2 separate regions of the Homo sapiens genome follow, and region 2 is linked to region 1. Evidence: fine-mapped expression QTL. Tissue or cell type: subcutaneous fat. Region 1 holds a variant in brackets; the other region holds the start of a gene. All regions are shown on one strand. Distances are between the middles of the regions.

Region 1 (8,178 bases):
TAGGGCCAACAATCCAGCCTCATTCCTTTTTACAGTGCTTCCTCCAACAGGAGTCCATAGCATTTCAAACCTGCATGTCTCCTGATGTGGTCCCAATGGGGTATCTTCTGTGAGCAAAGGCCTGAGAAAAAATATGCACACATACCTCTCAAAAACAAACAATTTTCACTTTGGCATTTTAGTCCCAACATGAATTGGGACTAAACATGAATCTAGTCCCAATTCATGTTTAGGATAAAAAATTAACTCAGTGGAAGCATAGTACTGTAAAGGACACCCAGATTATATCAGTACACAGAACATTTAACATTTTAATCATAGTGGATATTTGCTGAGTGCTTACTCTGTGGCAGGCACTTGAGTTACTTTCATTTCATAAACAAGGAAAATGAAGCTCCCGGGTGTCATTTGCCCAGGGTCACAGAGCTAATAAATGGCAGACAGGAAATTGCACCAGGACTGTCTAACCACAGTCAACCCATGTTAACTGCTGTACAGAGCTGTCCTGGTTTCCACCAGCCACATTCAGGTTAATAGTGATAGCACAATTTTCTCTAAGATCAGTAGGTGGATACCTGAGATACCTCAGTCTAAGTAAAGAGCGTATTCTGGTAAGTTTGCTTCCAAGATGAATTGCTATCCTTTGCTCTGGAGATAGAAAACTATTACCAGCTTTTATTTTTAAGATTTCTTTTTTCATAGAAACCATAACACTTTATTTTTTAATTTAAATTTAATTTTATTTATTTATTTTTGAGACAGAGTCTTGCTCTGTTGCTCAGGCTAGAGTGCAGTGGCGCAATCTTGGCTCACTGCAACCTCGGCCTCCTGGGTTCAAGCAATTCTCCTGCCTCAGTCTTTGGAGTAGCTGGGATTACAGATGTGTGTCACCATGCCTGGCTAAGTTTTGTATTTTTAATAGAGACAGGGTTTCACCATGTTGGCCAGGCTGGTCTCGAACTCCTGACCTCAGGTGATCCGCTCGCTTTGGCCTCCCAAAGTGCTGGGATTACAGGTGTGAGCGACCACACATGGCCTAATTTTTATTTTTTATCAAAGGAATATATATACATACTTAAAAAAATAAAACAGTGCTAAGAGATGCCTAATAAAATCCAACAATATCCTGTCCTACTCCTTCCCACTGCAAGTCCTGCTCCCTAGAGGCAACTACTTCCAAATCCCTTGTTCCTTGCCACCTCCCACTCAGAGGCTGAAGAACCAGATACTTTCTTAGCCTCCCTTGCAGCTAAGGATGACTACGTGACCTGGCTTTGGCCAGTGAGATGTTTGCTGCGGGCCTTCTGAAAAAGTATTTGCTTTTCTGAGCAGAGGCACAAATAGCTGATGTTGTCCCCTTCTTTCTTTCTGCTTTGAATATAGTCAAGCCGTCTGGAGCTGTGACAGCCATCTTGTGACCATGTGGGGATGAGCACGAGGAAGAAGACAACATGTGAAGGAAGAAAGTCAGAAAGAGCCCAATTTCTTGATGGCATCATTGAGCAGCTGAACCCATGCCACAGTTCCTGTTAACTTAAAAAAATAAATAAAGCCATATGTGTTTAAGCCACTATCAGTTGAGTTTTTTGTTACTTGTAGCTGAAATGATTTTTATTTGATGGACCGCCATGGTTCCTTGTCATATGCTTATATCATTCTTTCTTTCTTTCTTTCGAGACAGAGTCTCGCTGCAATGCCCAGGCTGGAGTGCAATGGCACGATCTCGGCTCACTAAAACCTCCACCTCCCAGGTTCAAGCATTTCTCCTGCCTCAGCCTCCTGAGCAGCTGGTATTACAGGCGCCTGCCACCACACCCAGCTAATTTTTGTATTTTTAGTAGACACAGGGTTTCACCATGTTGGCCAAGCTGGTCTCGAACTCCTGACCTCAAGTGATCCGCCCACCTCAGCCTCCCAAAGTGCTGGGATTACGGGCATGAGCCACCGTGCCTGGCCACCATTATTTCTTAACTTAGCAATCTGAGACATTATCTCTTGAGATCTTATGGTAGAACAGGATTTACCTCTTTTCTATCTCTTCCACACACACACCCTACTTTCCCTCCCTTCATTCTTCCAATATGTTTATATCCAAACTCCTAGTAAATCAGTAGTCACTACAGAGCCAAGAAGTATACTATAATTACCTTTTTTTTCATTTTTTTATATTCCTGATTTTAATAATTGCTTGGACTTTTTCCACATTGGAAATGTGCCTAATCTTAGTTTTTCCCATTTGTTTCATCCGTTCGTTCATAAATCTATTAGCATATTTCTTCACAAATGTTCAAACCTATCAGTCCATTGATTTTTTTTTTTTTTTTTTGAGACGGAGTCTTGCTCTGTCACCCAGTCTAGAGTGCAGTGGCGTGGATCTCGGCTCACTGCAAGCTCCGCCTGCCGGGTTCACACCATTCTCCTGCCTCAGCCTCCGGAGTAGCTGGGACTACAGGCACCCGCCAGCACGCCCGGCTAATTTTTTGTATTTTTTAGTAGATACGAGGTTTCACCGTGTTAGCCAGGATGGTCTCGATCTCCTGACCTCGTGATCCGCCCGCCTCGGCCTCCCAAAGTGCTGGGATTACAGGCGTGAGCCACCGCGCCCGGCCGATTTTTTTTTTTTAAGACAGAGTTTCGCTCTGTCCCCCAGGCTGGAGTGCAGTGGCGCAATCTTGGCTCACTGCAACCTCCACCTCCTGGGTTCAAGCGATTCTCATGCCCTAGCCTCCCCCAGGTAGCTGGGATTACAGGTGCCTGCCACCATGCCCGGCTAATTTTTGTATTTTTAGTAGAGACATGGTTTCACAATGTTGGCCAGGCTGCTTTCAAACTCCTGACCTCAGGTGATTTCCCTGCCTCGGCCTCCCAAAGTGCTGGGATTACAGGCGTGAGCCACCGTGCCCAGCCTGGCCCATTGATTTAAGAAGAACACAATAAAAAGTTGAGCCGGACATGGTGGCTCACACCTGTAATCATTGCACTTTGGGAGGCCAAGGTGGGAGAATCATTTGAGCCCAGGAGTTTGAGACCAGCCTGGGCAACACGGAGAAACCTGGTCTCTATTTTAAAAATAAATAAAAAGTTGATTGATTTGGAGCCCTGTGTAAGGGCAGGTGTTTGTCAAGTCCCATTAAAGTGACTGAGTAAGGACCTGTACAATCTGCTGGAGGACCCCTAAGTACCGAAAATAGAGGCCTTTGCTTTGGGACTGTTTGGTTTCTTTGGAGAACCCGCTGATATTTTGCTGGAGTGTAGAGACTTGTTGGCTGCTGTGATTTCTACCCATGAGCATGGGGGAGATAAGGAGGAAATTAACTGTTCCAACATTGAGTTGGGGGAGATTAACCGTTCCAACACACACTTTCAATTATGTTTGAGGCTTTATGTCTTGCTCCCACATCAGGATACCTTTACTGCACCTCTCCAGGATTTGGCAGGGTAGATGAGCTCTCTCCCGGTGGATCCCTTCCCACATGTGGACTCTGCTCATTCCTTCCCCTGCACTGCCTTCTCAGTTACCACCCCTCCCGCCCCCTTTCTGCTTGCCAGAAAGTTGTTGAAATCTCTCTCCCATTGATGGGAGCTCCTCCAGTTTTCTTTGGAGTTGTGAGTTTATACCCTTGATCTTTTTATTTTGTGGAGTCTTAGGAATTAGAGAAAACAAATGCATTCCACCTTCTTGAACGGCAGTACTATCTGAATTTTAACTGCTCCAGATTTTCTGGATACACCAAGTCTGTAGACCAACATTCGTGAACCATTGGCAATAGAAAAAGCCTGGGTTTGGGAATCTGATGGGTTTGGGTTTGAATTCTGACTCCTTTTTTTTTTTTTTTTTTTGAGACGGAGTTTTGCTCTTGTCGCCCAGGCTAGAGTGCAATGGTGTGATCTCGGCTCACTGCAACCTCCGCCTCCCAGGTTCAAGCGATTCTCCTGCCTCAGCCTCCCAAGTAGCTGGGATTACAGGCAACCGCCACTGCGCCCAACTAATTTTTTTTGTATTTTTAGTAGAGACGGGGTTTCACCATGTTGGCCAGGCTG[G/T]TCTCGAACTCCTGACCTCAGGTGATCCACCTGCCTCGGCCTCCCAAAGTGCTGGGATTACAGGCATGACCCACCGCGCCCGTCCGAATTCTGAGTCTTTGGACCTCCTTGCTCAATTCATATCCATGGGCCTCGATTTTCTTCTCTATAAAATAATGTTCCAGATAAAATATAGTCCCAGGTAGAATAGTCATGTCTACCTGATAGAGTGCTGGGAAGATTTCCTTAGATACTGTATGTAAAGCATCCAACACAGGGCTTGGTATACAGTAGGTGTCAAAAAAATAGGAGTGATCACTTTTTTTTTTTCTTTTTTTGAGACGGAGTCTCACTCTGTCACCCAGGCGGAGTGCAGTGGCTTTTTCTCAGTTCCCTGCAACCTCTGCCTCCCGGGTTCAAGAGATTCTCCTGCCTCAGCCTCCCGAGTAGCTGGGACTACAGGCGCGTGCCACCACGCCTGGCTAATTTTTTTGGAGTGATCGCTTTTTAATGGAAGCAAGTGGCAAATGTGATTGGAAAGATTTGAATCAGGGTTTTGGAGGGCCTGGAATGCCAGGACTTCTTCTTGTGACACTGAGAAACCTTGACCATCTTGTGAGAATCTATCAGATTGTTCCCTCAGTCTGGTCTGAGGAGGGAGCAAGAAGCCCTTGGCCCAGCAGCTCTTGGGTTAAAATCTTCGTCTGCATCTGAGTTATTTGTAACCCGTTGTCATGGCAACAAGTTTGGCAAGCAAGCCAGTGCTGCAAGCTCCTGACAGTGCGGAGGGGAGGGCAGTGGGAGAAGATGGAAGATTTGGAAGGGGGGTGGTCTGTGACCAGCGCCTCACTTTCCTCTGATTTGTCTGAAGCTTTCAGCTGGAGATGAGGGTGAGCGTCCTCTAGGGAGAATCATTGGACGTTGGAGACTCTCCTCCCCAATCTCCTAATATTTCAGATATGAAAATAGGGCCAGAGAGGTCCAGCAGCTGGCTCAAGGCCACACAGCAAGTCAGAGACAGGTCTAGACTTTTCTAAAAAGGACTTAGGGCCATGGAACTGAAGCATAACAAACCAGGAGGGGACCTTTGGAAATGTTTCGTCCACCTCCCCACCAACACACACATGCCTTTTTGTGTTGTTCATATGAGGAACCTGGACCCAGAGTGGTTCAGAACAGACTCAGCTTCACACAGCAATTCTGGTGGTGACTTGGGAACAAAACCCAGAGGACTCGGGCCTTGCAGACCTGGATATTTCCTGAGGAAGTGGCAGTCTAGGAGTCACAGTCCAGAGAAGCCCCTCTCTGCTAACTGCCAAGACAGGGCCTCCCAGAGTAGCATTGATTTGACTGCCTTGGCTTCTGACTGCCTTGGCCTTTGAGCTCCTCAAATCCAACATGCATGTGCCCAGGTCACATTTCCCCTTCCCTGCGCCCTCTTTTTTCTGCATGTATGTGTGTCCTCCTGCCTGTGGCATCGCTGTTGCCCAAATGGCAGCCCAGCCCCACCCCACCCTGGACCAAACAAACCTGCCACATGCTTCCCATCCATATTGCCTACAGGGCTAGGCATTTCTTGAACATTCTCTTATGTAATTCATTCCTCCCAATTATCATTCTCCATCTCCCAGTTTAGCAGGTGGAAACCTAAAGGACCAGAGAAAGATAGTGACTGGTCCAAAGTCACACAGTGAGTCTTAGCCCGAATCCCTCCTCCTCATAATGATCCTCCTCATTTTACATGTTTCTGCCCATTCTATCCCACACTGATTTCTCAGCCCTCAGAGTTCCTCTGGCACTTATCTTTGTCTTAATCACCCCCTTAAACTTGTGCAATTTCCTCTGTGTTCTCTGCCTTATGTGCAGCCTAAAATCCTCCTGTCTCCTCATAGCTGATTCCTCACCAAGTCCAGTTGAGTCTCTCCTTTCTGTACGTCAAATCTACCTTCTTTCCTCATCTTCTGCCACTATCCTGTTCCAGCCTCAACATCCCTCACATGAATGACCCCAAATCTACTCCCTGGCTTCCAGACTGGCCATTTTCAACCTAATACTTGGCACATCAGCAGTAAGAGGGCATTGATGCTAGTCAACACAACCTTTCCTTCTATGACACTCCATACCCCACAGGGTAAAGTCTAGCTGCTTGATAGGTCATTAAGGTCACATAAGTTCTGGCCCCTGCCAGACCTCTTGAGTCTCATCACCTGCCACTCTTGGCCTCACACCCTGTGCTCTGACCACTGAGCACATAACTATAAGTGCAACTAACTACAAGTGCTTCCTAGACTGCACCAGTTTTTTTTTCCCCCCAGGTGTCTTTGCAATGTCTTCTGCATGAAAGGCCTTTCACACTGACACCCAAACCCCATTAATTCAGCTGTTGAAGTGTCACTTTATTCACGCAGCCTATCTTTGTTCCCAAGTTGGATGAGATCCTGTCATCTGGGCTCCCACAGCGCCCCTCTGCTCCTGTACCGTGCAGAACTGTTGTCTGGGGCTCTCTCTCCTTTCAGATAGGAAGCTCCCTGAGGGCAGGAATTCTGTCTTCAGCAAAGCCCAGCACCTGGATGGTCCCAAAAGGAAGGGGCGGCGAATATGCATTGAAGGAATCCAGGAGCATGAATGGTTGGATGACGAATGAAATTTGTTTTCAGTTCTGTGATTGTGCACTCTAGCCCGAGGGCCTGCGTGACGTCACTTGTTGCCTAGCAACAGTTTTCCCTCCGCCCCGGGGCGTGGTTTATGGGGGCGTGGCTTGTGTCAGCTGACGCAGAGTAAGGTGGCCGAGGATCCCAAACCAGATAGGTCTTGAGCAGGGAGCCGTGGTAGAAGAGAAGTGCGGATAGAAAGTGAGGGCCTTATGAGGTAGGTGATATTATTTCCCCTCCCCCTTATAGGTAAGAAAACTGAGGCACAGGGAGACTTAGGTGACTTGTCAAAGCTACACAGCTAAGTACCGATGTGGTGGGCGCCCAACTCTGATCAACTCCGTCACTTTTCACATTGTGTCGTCCTCTCAGTATTCCCTTTGGACAACAGGGTAGTTAATGGCGAAGTCGTGCCTGGAACCTGGGTCTTAGAGAAATAGCTGTCAAGGTAGAAGAGAGAGAAGAAATTATATTTTGAGCACCTACTGTGACATTGTGCAGTGGATGGCCCAGAGCTAGAATGCCAGGCCAGATGGGGCACTTTTTATGTATTAAAAAAAAAAAAAAAAAAAAAAAAGGCTGGGCAGGGTGGCTCACACCTGTAATCCCAGTGCTTTGGGAGGCCTAGGCGAGTGGATTACTTGAAGACAGGAGCTTGAGACCAGCCTGGACAATATATTGTGACCCCGTCTGTAAAATAACAACAACAAAAATTATCCAGGTGTGGTGGCACACGCCTGTAGTCCCAACTACTTGGGAGGCCAAGGTGGGAGGACCACTTGAGCCTGGGAAGTGGAGGCTGCAGTGAGCCAAGATCACACTACTGCACTCCAGCCTGGGTGACAGAGCAAGACTCTGTCTCAAAAAATTCTTAGGAACTCCTTAAAATATATACACATGTGCAAATGTTTCTGATGTTAGAAGCTAAATTCATTAAATACATTGAAATGTTTGTCTTTGGGTGTAAAGGGAGTAGAAATACAGGAGAAAAAATAAAATTAACAAACGAAAGGAATCAAGAGAGGAGCCTTGAACAAACTAATGATGACTTCTGTCCCACCGGAAGTAATGTGTTCATTGATGAAAATTTAGGGAAAGAAAAACGTCCTACCATCTAAATACAACCAATGTTAGTATCTTGGTGTATTTAGGCTTTTATCTAGGCTTAGAAAAACCGTATTTGGGATCATGCTGTATGTTCAATTACATACTGCCATTTTCACATAAACATTTCCCATTAAAATTTTTATAAACATCATTTAAATGGCCACAAAATACTCCTTTGAGTGGATATACTTACGGAATTCCTTTCTGCGTGGGTTTTGGCATTTATTTTATTTTTTTCTTGCTTTGTTTAGATTTGTTTGGCCAGGGTTTAGGTTTGATTTTCTCTATGTCTAATTTTAGGAGATAGCATAAAGAGAGATTGTTGTTTGAGAGAAGTAAGGGAAAGCACGGTAGGCTTTTGGGAAGCAATAGTATTTGAGGGGAATTTTGGAGTATGTAA
Region 2 (8,178 bases), 64 kb before region 1:
GAAATGCTTGTCAGCTTGTCAGCTGGATCTCAATCAGAACACTAATACCCTAGCCAACTTCTTACGGCAGGCACTATGCACTGGTTTTCAAAGCTGCCACTCTGTGTTAACACTCACCTGACTTCCTTCAGCCTCATTTTACAGAAGAGGAGCCTGGGGCTCAGAGAAGACAGGTGATTTATCCAAAGCCACACACATAACAGTCAGCAGACCTGGCCTTAAATACTTACGGGGTCTTTTCCAGAATACCATGCTGCATCCCCCCTCTATCCACTCACCTAGCAATCTTTTGTTTCTTAAACTATCAATATTTTCTCTTTTATTATAATTCATTTATCACATTTCAAAATCATACAAAAAGGAATACAGTTTAGTGAGGCGTAAGTGTCCCTTCCATCTCTGTCTCTCAGCCTGGTTAAGTTTCTCAACATAGCCTTGCAGAGATAGTTTAGGTATATGCAGTAATTTTGAGACAGGGTCTCACTGTTGCTCAGGCTGGAGTGCAATGGTGTGATCTCGGCTCACTGTAACCTGCTCCTCCTGGATTCAAGTGATTCTTGTGCTTCAGCCTCCCAAGTAGCTGGGATTATAGGCATGCACAACCACGCCCAGCTAATTTTTGTATTTTCAGTAGAGACAGGGTTTCACCACGTTGGCCAGGCTGGTCTTTAACTCCTGACCTTGTGTGATCTGCTCACCTCAGCCTCCTAAAGTGCTGGGATTACAGGTGTAAGCCACTGCACCCGGACTCCAAATATTCTTTAGGCCTCTTTTAGCTCCATGTTGCCTGTCTCAAGAACCAGGTCACATGGCCCAGAGCTGACTGGAGAAGGGTCAGCCGTCTCCCCTAGTCTCTTCCCCTGCACTGACCTATCCCTCTTCCCAAGCTCTTCCCAGGCCTGTAGGGGTGGGTGCCTTCTCTCCCTCTCTTTCCTTTCCTGCCCTAGGGGCCTACTTGAATCAGGGGAAGGGCTATCATGGGCACTGTTACACATTCCTCTCCAGGTGTAAGAGTGAGGTGGCCCTGATCCTGAGCAACAGTCCCTACTACCCACTCACCCCCATGACTCGGTTCCGCACATTGAAGAATCGGTTTTGTCGCTCTTTTTCTCGATTTCTTCTAGCCTCGATGGCTGCTGCTTCCTTGGTATCTGTTGACTGTTTTATGTTATACATCTGGAGCAAAAGGGAGGTGGAATGGCCCATCAGTGCCGACCACCGTCTTTGACTACACGCCACCCCCATTCCTTTCTCCCTATAATATTTCAGCAGTTATTGATTCCTACTGATTTTACTTCCTGATATATTTCGTATCTGTGCCCTCCATCTCTGCTGTCACCAGCTTAATTCAGGCCTCACAATCTGGTGTCAGGCAGTATCTCAGGAGCCCCACTGGGTTCTCTTGCTCCAACGTTACCCTCTCTGCACTGGATTTCTCTGCACTGGCTACCAGAGTGATCTTTGGGAAGCAAATCTGACCATGGCACTCCTCAGCGTAAAGCCTTTGAAAGCACCTTTAAAGCAATGGCTCCCCAGTGCTTATAAGGCCCAACCCCCTTTGCCAGATTTATAAGGTTCTTCATGATCTGACCCCTGCTCACCTTTCTAAGCCTCAAACACATCTACAACACTCCTTTTTCATTATACTCTATTCAGTTTTCCTTATTTCAGTAAGTGGCACCACCATTCACCAAGTTGCTCCGGTCAAAAACCTAGGAGACATCCTTTAATCCTTCCTTTCCCTCACTCCTTCTTCTTTCAAAATAACCCTTATCCAAGCCACCATTGCCAGCTTCCTGAATAACCACAACTGTCTCCATGTTGGTATTCCAGCTTCCTCTATTGACTCCTATAGCCCAATCACAGAAACCAGAAGCAGCTTTCTTTTCTGAAATATATGTCCCCCCACCCTTTTTTTTTTTTTTTTTTTTTTTTTTACTTTTATTACTTATTTTCTGGTCAAATGAAAGGCTAGAAAGCTAAATTTGCCTGTGTTCCTTCATATTTTGGGAAGCTCACTTTTGGCATGTAACCCAGCCAAAGCTGCAGCCAAAAAAACTTTAGCAAACATAAATCTGATCATGTCTCTCACCTGCTTAAATCCTCCACTAGCTTCCCACTATACTTAGAATCAGATCCAAACTCCTTACTGTGGGCTTTCAAGATCTAGTTCCTGCACACCTCTCCAATTTGTCTCAAACCACTGTCTCCCTTGCTTACAGTGCTCCAGGCAAGCTGATCAAGTCCTCCAACACAGTAATTGTTCCCACCCCGGGGCCTTTGTATGTGCTGTTCCTTTGTTTGGAGCGTGATTCTTTAATTCCTCCTATAGCTATTTGGATCTTTTTGGTGTTTTGTTTTGTTTTCCATTTTGTAACTGTGAAGTAGTTGAACATATATGCCCGGCTGATTTTTGTATTTTTAGTAGAGATGGGGTTTCACAGTGTTAGCCAGGATAGTCTCAATCTCCTGACCTTATGATCCACCCTCCTTGGCCTCCCAAAGTGCTGGGATTACAGGCATGAGCCACCACACCTGGCCCCATTTAATTTTTTTTAATATAGATGGGGTCTCACTATATTGCCCAAGCTAGTCTTGAACTCAAGCAATTCTCCTGCCTCGGCCTCCCAAAGTGCTGGTATTACAGGCATGAGCCATTGTGCCCGGCGTCACTTAGGTTTTTAATCCACTTGGAGTTGCATTTTGTGTATGGTGTGAGATAAGGATCCAATTTAATTTTCCCCCCAAGTGCCATCTCATCTTTTTTAAATTTAAAATTTTATTTTATTTTTGGCCGGGCGCGGTGGCTCACGCCTGTAATCCCAGCACTTTGGGAGGCCGAGGCAGGTGGATCAGGAGGTCAGGAGTTCAAGACCAGCCTGGCCAACATAGTGAAACCCTGTCTTTACTAAAAATACAAAAAAATTAGCCAGGCGTGGCAGTGGGCACCTGTAATCCTAGCTACTTGGAAGGCTGAGGCAGAGAATAAAATTTATTTTATTTTTAATTTGTTTTAGATGGGGTCTCTCTCTGTTGCCCAGGATGGAGTGTAGTGGTGCAATCATGGCTCACTGCAGCCTCAAACTCCTGGGCTCAAAGGATCTTCCTGCCCCAGCCTCCTGAGTAGCTGGGACTACAGGTGTGTGCCACCATGCCTGCCTAATTTTTAAAATTTTTTTGTAGAGATTGGGTTTTGCTATGTTACCCAGGCTCACCATCTCATCTTTTAAAAGGGAACAGTATTTCCCCATGGATTACATGAGATTGCTGTCTTTTAGCCATTTTATCCCCTCAGCCTGATTGTTTCTCCCAGCTGAACTTCATTTATGGCTCCCCTACTAGATTCCATCTACCAAGCTTCCTCCCTTTATTTATTTTTGAGACAGGGTATTGCTCTGTCACCTAGGCTGGAGTGAAGTGGTGCGGACACCACTCACTACAGCCTCAACCTCCCAGGCTCAAGTGATCCTCCTGCTTCGGCATCCTGGGTAGACCAGAGGTGAGAGCTGCCACACCCAGCTAATTTTTTAATTTTTAGTAGAGATAGGGTCTCACTATGTTGCCCAGGCTGGTCTTGAACTGCTGGTCTCAAGTGATCCTCCTGCCTTGGCCTGCCTCCCTCACGATGGGATTACAGTTGTCAGCCACCATGCCCAGCCACTTCCTCACTTTCCTGGACTTGTCCTAAGTCTTTAGGACTCTTTCTAGCCTTCGGACATAATTTAATAAATAGTTAAAGGAATAATTATGGCAACCACCAGATCCTTTCCATGTTTAAGTCTGAGAATGGCACCAACTTACCTACTGGTTTCACCTGCCATTACAGTATAAGGTCACTGAAGGGGAAGATTCAGCTGACATTTTAAGCTTCTTGGATTGCTAAGGCCCCTGCCTTATTAATGATAGAGAGCAGAGAGGGAAGAGAGGTAAGGTGGCATTGTGGTATAGAGCTGTGGGAATGGGATGGGGGAGAGGCATGGAGGCAGAGGTAGGTGGAGGTGGAGAGCGCTGGCTTAGGGACCCTGACTCCTGGGGGTTCACACAAAATACCTTTCTCAGTAAGGAATCCCGATTTTGAAGCTCTTAGGTTGGCTCTGCATGCAACTTTGTTCTTGGGTTACGGCGGCAGTTTCTGAACTCTGCTTGGTACAACAGGAGGGAGGCAGGGGATAGGGGTAGTATCTCAGGCCGTAGCCTTCCCCAGCCTGTATCCCTGTTGCCTGGGAGTAGCCCCAGTCCCATTCACAACCCGTCCGCCTTCGCAACCCGTCCCGCCACCAATCCCACCCCACCATTAGCAAAGTCTGAGCTCACCTAACACTGAATCCTCCCGTTGGCCCCTCCTTCCCGTCCAGCTCTCCGCTCCCCCCGGGTCCTTCCAATTCCCGACCCTGTCCTTGTCCTAGCCTTGAAAGCTGGCCAGGCTAAAGCCACAGCCGAGCTCCCACCTTCCTCTTGCCCTGAGGGGCATAATCCTGCTGTGACTTCTGTCTCAGCAAGCGTGAGCTCAGGTCTCCCCCGCCTCCTTGAACCTCAAGAACTGCTCTGACTCCGCCCAGCAACAACTCCTCCGGGGATCTGGTCCGCAGGAGCAAGTGTTTGTTGTTGCCATGCAACAAGAAAGGGGGGCGGAGGCACCACGCCAGTCGTCAGCTCGCTCCTCGTATACGCAACATCAGTCCCCGCCCCTGGTCCCACTCCTGCCGGAAGGCGAAAATCCCGTTAGGCCTGGACGTATTCTCGCGACATTTGCCGGTCGCCCGGCTTGCACTGCGGCGTTTCCCGCGCGGGCTACCTCAGTTCTCGGGCGTACGGCGCGGCCTGTCCTACTGCCGCCGGCGCCGCGGCCGTCATGGGGTTCCTGAAACTGATTGAGATTGAGAACTTTAAGTCGTACAAGGGTCGACAGATTATCGGACCATTTCAGAGGTTCACCGCCATCATTGGACCCAATGGCTCTGGTGAGATAAACCTGGCCGCGGCCCTGCGCACGTCCCGGCCTGGACCCCTTATCCGGTGCCGGAGTAGTACAACCCAGCCCATGTAACCTGAAACGTCGCGGACCCTTACGGGTTCCTTGCCCGTCCAGAGGGGGTTCTGCTCGAACCCACTCTCCCCGCGCGGGTGCTCTAACTCGAACCCCTTCCAGGTGTCACTTGCCGCTTCCTGCGCGGCCCCCGCCCCGGCCCAGTGGTACAGGCCGAGCTGCCAGTTACCCCGCCTACTTCCCCCTCCCGCCAAAGGAGTCGCGTCTGGAACCAGCTTCCCGCCAGCTCAGTCCTCCGCCGCGCGGCTCCCCGCCGGACCGGCCGGAGCCGGCTTCCCAGCCTTACTTGACCCCCTCCGGAGAATGTGGGGACGCTGGTAGCTCTCCCGTGGCCTTCGGTCCCAAACGGTGCACTTCTGTTTCAGCCCAGCGTCCTCTCTCGCCTCGCATTGGTACACTCCAACTCCTTTCTACTCTTCTCTGGAGGCGGCACTTTTGAATTTCAGACCCAGCGCTCCAGTCTTTAGAATGCTTGAGGTGTCGATCCCCACCCCCCACCGCTATGTCAGAGGTAGTTGCCTCGAACTCGCCCTTTTCCTACCACCGAAACCGTCAAAAGCCGAAATTAACTAATTTACCAAATTTGTTGAATGCTTATTGTTTATCAGGAGTTATTCAGTTGCAAGTTGTGGAAACAGCGGAGAATAGAATAAACCAACTCCATGCTCACAGGGAACTTATATTCCAGAGGGGAAAGAAGATAAGGAGAAAATAAGATGGTTTTAGGCTGTCATAAGTGCTATACAGGAAATGAGACAGGTGGATGTGATAAAGTGACTTAGGTGGTGTCTTTAGAAAGGGTGGTCAGGTAAAGCCTCTATTTTGTGTCTTCCCAACTCTAAACGATACACCGTGGATTCCTCTCACCTCAGATGTCCATTTGGAATCCTGCTGTATTCTTCCACCCCAGAGATGTTCTAGCTGAATGATATCCTAGCCTAAGAGGCTGCCCTTGCTGAAGTAGCACATACTGAGTACCTTTCCTGGAGACTGAGTGTCTCAACAGTGGCACTATTGACATTTCCAGCGAGATAATCCTTTGCTGTGGGATGTGCTCTGTGCATTGTAGGATGTTTAACAGCATCTCTGGCATCTACCTGCTAGATAACAGTAGCACCCCTGCTCCCCAGGCATGACAATCAAAACTGTCTCTAGACATTGCTAGATGTCACAGAGGGTGTGTGTGATTCCCCCAACCCCCCAACTTGTTTGAGAACCACTGGCCTGGAGGGCTAATGCTTGGTGTCCACCCAGTTTCCTCGGGTTTTAGTGTAGTGGCCCCTGTTGGAAGAGCTAGGATGTACCTCTTGGCATTCAGTCCCCTCAGCATTAGTAGATTTGTATTCCCAGCTGTTCTGAAAAGGGCTATGGCACTCCCCCACTTGCCCCCGTTCTTCAAGGCCCACCTCTACAAGCCATTCCTTTAGTCCCTTTGGTGAGTGAGTCTTCCTCTGTGGCATACCGTAGACACTTGGTACACGTTAATGTTTATTAAGTCCTATATTGATGGTGCATGTTTTTGTATCTTCATTGGCCTGTGAGTACCCTAAAGCAGACATTCCTTGAAACGTTTTACTGGTGTTCAGTCCATAATATATATTACAAAAATGTTTACCATATTGATTGTGATTAGAGAGGCTTGGGGTTGTGAGATGATGTTGTCCTCCCTGGAAATGATGGGAGAAGCCCAAAGGTTGGATATTGGTTCCTAAAAGGCTGACTCCTGGTCTGCATGATGTGCTAGTCCTGCTGTGATGAGGGAGACAGCTGAGTCCAGACTTAGGATAGGACTAATTAATTGAGTACCTACTCTGTGTGTCAAGTACTTTATTTATTGGGACCCTGTTTTTTCTTTTTCTTTTTCTTTTCTTTTTTTTTTTTTTTGAGACAGTCTTGCTCTGTTGTCCAGGCTGGAGTGCAGTGGCATGATGTTGGCTCACTGCAACCTCTGCCTCTTGGGTTCAAGTGATTCTCGTGCCTCAGCCTCCCAAGTAGCTGGGACTACAGGCGTGCGCCACCCCATCTGGCTAGTTCTTGTATTTTTAGTAGAGTTGGTGTTTCTCCCAGTTGGCCAGGCTGGTCTCAAACTCCTGGGCTCAAGTGATCTGCCTGCCTCAGCCTCCCAAAGTGCTGGGATTACAGGCATGAGCCACTGCACCCAGCCAAGGGACCCTTTACAATTAAATTCTCAAAATGACCCTAGGAGGAAAATGCCAATAGCTTCGTTTTATACATGAGGAGACTAAGGCACAGAGGTGTGATAACTTGTCCGTGGTTCTCAGAACCCATGCCTGTGCTCCTGCCACTCCAATAGAGAAGTATGTGCCGCACATATTTTTAGACCCGTGAATTGTGGTTTTTTTCATCTTTTTCCAGGTGAGGGAATGGAAGGTCAGCTAAGTGGTAGTGAAAGTAAGATTAGAACCTGGTCTGTTGGTTCTAAGCCCAAGTTTGCAAGCTTTTTTAGATGGAGTCTCACTCTGACGCCCACACTGGAGTGCAGTGGCATGACCTCGGCTCACTGCAACTTCTGCCTGCTGGGTTCAAGTGATTCTTTTCTTTTTTTTCTTTTTTTTTTTTTTGAGATGAAGTCTTTCTCTGTCGCCCAGGCTGGAGTGCAGTGGCGTGATCTCAGCTCACTGCAACCTCTGCCTCCCGGGTTCAAGCTATTCTCCTGCCTCAGCCTCCTGAGGAGCTGGGATTACAGGCGTGCACCACTATGCCCGGCCAGTTTTTGTATTTTTAGTAGAGACGGGGTTTCACCACGTTGTTCAGGCTGGTCTCAAACTCCTGACCCCGTGATCTGCCCACCTGGGCCTCCCAAAGTGCTGCGATTACAGGTGTGAGCCACCGCGCCTGGCCTATTTTTTTTTTTTTTGGAGTCAGGGTCTTGCTCTGTCACCAAGGCTGGCATACAGTGGCACAATCATGGCTCACTGCAGCCTCAACTTCTCGGGCTCAAGCAACCCTCCCATCTCAGCCTTCCCAGTAGTCAGGACAACTGGAGTGTGCCACCATGCCGAGCCAATTTTTGTATTTTTTGTAGAGATGGGATTTTGCCATGTTGTCCAGGCTGGTCTCAAACTCCCGAGGTCAAGTGATCCACCCACGTCTGCTTCCCAGAGTGCTGG

Which allele goes with the higher level. Positions count from the first base shown, and alleles are read on the strand shown. Sizes are in standard deviations (SD) of each study's normalised expression.
In carriers of allele T in region 1, the expression in subcutaneous fat of the gene that starts at base 4,580 in region 2 tends to be lower than with G alone (moderate effect, 0.60 SD a copy in FUSION).

What was found. PIP is the estimated chance that this variant, and not a neighbour inherited with it, causes the effect.
Region 2: it holds the start of RIBC1, and the variant in region 1 is fine-mapped to the expression of RIBC1 in subcutaneous fat (FUSION, PIP 0.93).

The regions. Positions count from the first base shown.
Region 1 is chrX:53,354,915-53,363,092 of GRCh38, reverse strand. It overlaps LOC124905191 (a long non-coding RNA gene), which reads left to right. Exons shown (of 2, transcript XR_007068243.1): 2 at 1,384-1,570. Among named protein-coding and RNA genes, the nearest start is that of IQSEC2, 38 kb to the right of the region's middle. The variant G/T (reference allele first, on the strand shown) is at 4,042.
Region 2 is chrX:53,419,275-53,427,452 of GRCh38, reverse strand. RIBC1 (RIB43A domain with coiled-coils 1) reads right to left here and starts at 4,580. Exons shown (of 8, transcript NM_001031745.5): 1 at 4,449-4,580; 2 at 4,051-4,139; 3 at 1,060-1,176. The coding sequence starts at 1,176. It overlaps SMC1A (structural maintenance of chromosomes 1A), which reads left to right and starts at 4,799. Exons shown (of 25, transcript NM_006306.4): 1 at 4,799-4,961. The coding sequence starts at 4,853. RefSeq lists enhancers at 4,492-4,541, 3,696-4,667, 4,832-5,011, 5,202-5,251, 5,372-5,551 and 1 more.